Linked DNA regions of Homo sapiens: region 2 is linked to region 1. Evidence: fine-mapped QTL for protein levels in blood plasma. A gene starts in region 1. The other region holds a variant in brackets. All regions are shown on one strand. Distances are from middle to middle. Region 1 holds the start of DDAH1 (dimethylarginine dimethylaminohydrolase 1). Region 2 overlaps COL24A1 (collagen type XXIV alpha 1 chain).

Evidence for each region. A credible set is the group of variants that fine-mapping cannot tell apart. PIP is the posterior inclusion probability: the model's chance that the variant is causal. Protein levels are from antibody-based Olink assays in UK Biobank. Linkage for the fine-mapping came from a reference panel and not from the study's own genotypes, which makes the PIPs less certain.
Region 2: its variant is the best candidate, but not a certain one, in a credible set for the plasma level of the DDAH1 protein (UK Biobank, PIP 0.82).

Annotation. Positions count from the first base shown.
Region 1 is chr1:85,463,735-85,466,650 of GRCh38, forward strand. It overlaps DDAH1 (dimethylarginine dimethylaminohydrolase 1), which reads right to left and starts at 1,425. Exons shown (of 6, transcript NM_012137.4): 1 at 1,009-1,425. The coding sequence starts at 1,311. RefSeq lists silencers at 834-1,033, 1,274-1,683.
Region 2 is chr1:85,794,192-85,797,107 of GRCh38, forward strand. All of the region lies in intron 47 of COL24A1 (collagen type XXIV alpha 1 chain), which reads right to left. Among named protein-coding and RNA genes, the nearest start is that of ZNHIT6, 87 kb to the left of the region's middle. The variant T/A (reference allele first, on the strand shown) is at 1,435.

The DNA.
Region 1 (2,916 bases):
GAAAAAAAATTCTTAAATCTCCAGAAATGAAAGAAACCACTAGCTTCTTGCAATGCCACTGGATGCCAATAGCAACGGAGTCTTGAGCCTGGGCTCTTAACTGGCAATGAGAAGAATCCCAGGCCAGATGGCATTTTAAAATCCAATCTCACTCTATTTGTCTCTCCCCACTAACCTACATTGCACTTAAAGCAATCAGCCATTTCACAAGCTGCAGTATTTCAAAGTAGTTACAACCCTTGAGAACAGAAAAACTCTCTTAATTGCTGTGAGTTTAAAAATATAGAGAATAAAAATTATGGAATTTGTGAAACAACCATCTCTAATTAAACACGCTCGCTAGCACACACACCCAACACCGCACAGAGTACAGCTTTTCAAACCTAGCCCATTCATGCACACATTTAGCACAGCTCACCAACAAAACACTTTTCCTTCCATTCATTCACTTACTAGTCCCGTTCTTTGGGACTCACTCGCCACCACTGAAAACTAACTTGAGAAGCCCCAGGTCTGTGGGCACCGACACCCCGTTAATTCATCCAGCTTGTCCTGCTCCGAGCGCCAGGCAGGACTTGGGGGCTTCGGTGTCACGACTGGCGCTGCCCCCTGGAGGGACGCCCAGCCTCCACCCGCCCTACCGGAGCGGCACCCCTCGCGGCCCTCGCTCCCTGGGAAACACTCAGAGTTGCACTGTCGTCGCTGCCGTTTAATTTTCACAAATAAAAATGCCCGTGAGACGGAATCCCCCGCCCACCCACCTGCCCGAGACCGTACAACCACATTGAATCGGATCCTCCAGAAGGCTGCCGGCAGCCGGGAGGTGTGAACAATGAACTTCTCTCTGACTCTCTGACACACACACACACACACACACTCGCCCCCCGACGGGAAGTTGTGAACTACTAGCCCGAGGGCCAATGGCGCGACTCCCCAGGCAACACGGCGGCCGGCGGCGGGGGAGGGCCTGGCGCGCGCCCCGGCCGCGCCCCTCGAGTCGGCAGTTACCTCCTTCCTCCGGCTCGGCGCCCCGGGTCGGGTGATGAGGGCCGTCTCCTCGCACACCACGGCCACGTCCTCCACGAAGACGCAGTCCGGAAGGCTCTCGTCGGCCGGCAGCTCCACCACCTGCAGCCCCAGCTTGCTGCCCAGCACGCCCACGTAGAGCTGGTGCTGCCGTTCCGCGCGGGCGACGTCCACCTCCTCGCCCTTGGCGCTTCTCAGCGCGTGCTGGCCGAGCGACTCGGGTAGCGCCCGCACCACGGCGTGGGTGGCCCGGCCGAAGGCGGCGGGGTGGCCGAGCCCGGCCATGGCTTCGGGAGGCTTAGGGGCGGCGGCGGCGGCGGAGGCGGCCGGGTCCTGCCGCGGGCAGCGCGCGCTGAGCCTGCGAGCGCCCGTCGGCTCCTCTTGGCAGCCGCTGAATGTGGTGCAGAAGGAGCCCAGCTCGCGCCCGGAGCCCTGCCCGCGCGACTGAGCATGCCCAGAGCTCCGGGCGCCGGCCCGCGCGCATCCCGCGCGCCCACTCCGGCGCTCGCGGGTCTCGCGCCAGCCCAGGCGGGAGTTGTAGCGGCGAGCGCCGGGCGAGGAGTGGGGCCAGGAGAGGCGGCCGGGGAAGCAGCGAGGGCAAGAAGTATGCGGAGGCGGGGGACCTCGGCGAAAAGCCACCGCTACCCGGACCTGGCGGTACCTGTGTTCTGTCGCAGGTGCACACCTCCCATCGTCCCCAGCGCGGACTTGGAGAGCCGGCCTCGGTCTGGACAGAGCAGCTGGAGGGCTTCCTGGTCTTTACCTGAACAGTTTAAACCTTGCGTGCTTACAAAGTCTAGCCCACTTTTGAAGAGCTATAATGGTTTACAGATTCTTCATGTTGAGCTTAAATCCCACGGGTCCCAGTTCTGTTTTCTGGCCTTACCTAAAGTACAAGTTTTTCTTGTTTTGTGTGTGTTCGCGTGTGTGTGTGTTTTCACAAAACAGCATTTGCATATCTGAAAACAGTTCTAATTATCTATGCTGCCTAACACCATCCTCTACCCCCCACCCTAAACCCCCTCCAGTCCTGGAGCCCAAACCACTGAAAAGTAACTAGTGATTTGGTTTCCAAGTCCCTTCAACATTCTGGTCAGCTTCCTTTTGATACACACCAATTTGCTTGTATCCTTTTAAAATCATAGTATCCGGAAAATAAACAATTCTTCCTGTGTGGTCTGACCAGCACAGACTACAGCAGCACCCTTGTTCCAGATGCTGGGCCTCTATGAACACTGCCTAAGCCTGTATTCACTTTTTTGGTGGTCTAGGGCCAAGGCCCAGGCTACAGCCTTCTTGCCAGAACTCTGATCCCAGCTTTTAGGAAACTCTGGATTTCTAGGAGCAGGTCTCTCTGAGCATCCTAGAATGGTTGCCCCAACTGAGCCCAGAGATGTGATCTGCCTTCTCTCCCCTCCCACAAGGGTGGTGTGAATTTATAAATGAGCTTCAAAATTCTCAGCTTCACATTTGAGGAGTTTTTTTTGTTTTTTGTTGTTGTTTTGTTTTGACGGAGTTTCACTCTTGTTGCCCAGGCTGGAGTGCAGTGGCACGATCTCGGCTTACTTCAACTGCTGCCTCCCCAGTTCAAGCAATTCTCCTGCCTCAGCCTCCTGAGTAGCTGGGACTACAGGTGCACGCCACCACTCGCGGCTAATTTGTATTTTTAGCAGAGACAGGGTTTCACCATGTTGGCTAGGCTGGTCTCGAACTCCTGACCTCAGGTGATCCACCCGCCTCCACCTCCCAAAGTGCTGGGATTACAGGCATGAGCTACCACGCCCTGCCCAAATTTGAGGAGTCTCAAGGACAGCTCTGACACTGACATTGGGAAGTGGGACCAAAAGTAAAATAACAAACCTTTAAGACCGACTAGGTAGTACTTCTAAA
Region 2 (2,916 bases), 330 kb after region 1:
ATTAGAACTGATTATCCTAGATGATTTTAAGATACCTCAAAATTGCATAATTCTAAAATAGAACCATTTTGCCTCACTTTACTTATAATTCTAGGCAATTTTAAAGTTCTTCATTTTCTAATATAAAAAATGTATCTTTCAGGTGATACATGACAATGGACATTCAGAAACTACTGACCACTCTTGAAGTCAAGATGTACTTTTGACTGAGAATAATAAGGAGCACAAAACTTGTCATTAGGGTTAACTGTAAACTAGCAACTTCATTTTACTTGCAGTGCCATCAGATATTTAACCCAGTAGAATGAATATAGTCCAAGTCATTTACTATGCTTGTTGGTTTCTTAGAGAGAAATTTGAGGATGATAGCAGAGTGTTCTGTTCAACGTTCCAAACAATGTTTCATACAAGTAAAGAACAAACATTTCTTATTACACAGATGGCTGATTAATTTTGTTTGCAAGAGAAACAGATGCTAACCCTAGGCATTCTTTCCAGTGTCTTCTAAATGATTTGTCTAAAACAATTCAGCCTATGTTAAATCATTCTGGGTAAATTTTAAAAAGTAAATATAATTATAATTATTATTAACTTTGGTCAGAGATGCCAAAAATCAATGAACAGCTTACATGTGTATTAAAAATTAATATAATTATAAGAGTACATGGTGTCGCATGACCAGAGACTTCCTTTATTCTCAGATAGGAGCCAGTCTCCCTACCGAAATAAGTTTTAAACCTAGCAGGAAAGTGTTGTCAGTTTTGACAGGACTGAAACCCATGGCTTCCTAAGCCTTTGGACTCTAAAGAAACAAGTACTTCGATCAGTAATGACAACAACAACATCAACCACAACTGCAAGAGTTGCTTTTTATTGAGTGCATTCCATTTGTCAGAAATGAATAGCATTATGGTTTGTATTATTTTATTTGATCTGGTGTCAGTTAAGGAAAGAAGGCATTGCTTTTCACTTTGACTTCCCTCTGGGAAAAGGAAGAAATTGTTTTAGTGCAAGTCTGCCTTCATTTTAGAACTGAATGGAAAGATCTGGGAAGGAAAATGGTGCTATATGCACACATTTAGAAAAAAGATACAGAGACAAATTTTGGAATGATGATTACTTATTTGTACATAATAGTGAAACATACCAAAGAAAGTGTCACTCTGTTATTCCCCCAGCTCCTTGGCTTAGCCGTCATATTCTCATTAGGATTGAAACAAATATATTAAAAAATAAGCAATAAAAAATAAAATTTGTTAAATCCAGGCAACGATAAAAATCTACATTCTAAAAATAGCTAAAAATATTATATTTAAAGTTATGCTGAGTGAAATTACAAATATTTCGAATATCAATTTTATTGATTTCTCATAGTAGAATGACAAAATGACACTGAACTTCATATTGGTTGATATTTTTCTTTAAAGTACTACC[T/A]TAACATTTTTCTAAAAAAAGTTTTTTCCTTTCTCTTCTGCCAGGCACCTTATGTGTACAGAGCATTATGTTTATATAGTTATTAACTATGTGAGAAGATAATAAGAAAAATTAATTTAAAATTAATTTACTTTCTGTAGTACAAATATAATATCCTAGATTATTAGGCAATGTAAGTACTATTTTTTTTCTTAAGCCAGCAAACCCAGAAGTTATATAAATAATACTTTACTTCCTTTAGTCTGAGCAACTCAAAACACTTCTGTTTAAGTAGGAATTTCTCGTTTTATTTGGTTTACTAAATATATCCCTTCCTGCAAAGGATTGGTGTTTAAAAATATGTGGGATGGTAATTATTAGGTGATTATATGCAAGGCTACATTTTACATAAATAATGTAGCATTCATAATATTTTCCTGCCGTGCCAATCATAAGTAATGTAGCCAATTGCTAGAAATAAGATTTATGAATGAGCTATATACTAAAGTTAGGAGGTAATTTTAGTTTTGAATTTCTAAACATATTAAAGCTTATGGAACTGAGAGTACAGCTGAGGCAGGTCGTAAGGTAGTGAAGACAGGTCTGTTTGACTCACATCAAGGGTATACAATCTCTTGCTCAACCTTAATGAATACAGGTATTTCAACATTGTTTTACTTCACAGAAATTATTTACAACTGATGTTTTATCAATCCTAAAAAATAGTGCAAATGTCACTATGATATTTGACAAAATAAAGGTATTTTATGAAATCTCCTTTACCCAGGTCTTGACATCCAATCACAGGACTAACAGGGACTGAAAGAAGATGTTTCATCTATACTTTGACTCTTAGATATGTCTGGGTTCACATCATTATAGAGAAATAAATGTCTATCCTTTTATTCAAAAAATTACAAATAATCTACTCATACTATCTTATTTGATTCTCCCACAACCCTGTGAACACACCAAACTCCATGAGGGCAGTTTTTTGACCATGATTAACTGCTATATTCCCTAACTCCTGGCTCTTAGTAGGCACGAAACAAATTATTTTTTGAATGAATGCATGTAAGCTTAACCATTTATATTTATTATTATGAAAAGATGATACCCAATAAATACATGCAGTGTACTATGCATTTTACATACAATATTTCATTTGATTCTTATAAAAACCATATGGATTAAGTATAATACTATTGTACTCATTTTATAAATGCTGCTTAAGATGTCAAATACCTATCGCATCTAGATTTTAAACCCAGGTCTCCAAGATCCTAACAACTATGCAAAGAACATTCAATTCCTGGCCGGGCACGGTGGCTCACGCCTGTAATCCCAGCACTTTGGGAGGCTGAGGCGGGTGGATCATGAGGTCAGGAGATCGAGACCATCCTGGGTAACATGGTGAAACCCCGTCTCTACCAAAAATACAAAAAAAAAAAAATTAGCCAGGCATGGTGGTGGGCGCCTGTAGTCCCAGCTACTCGGGAGGCT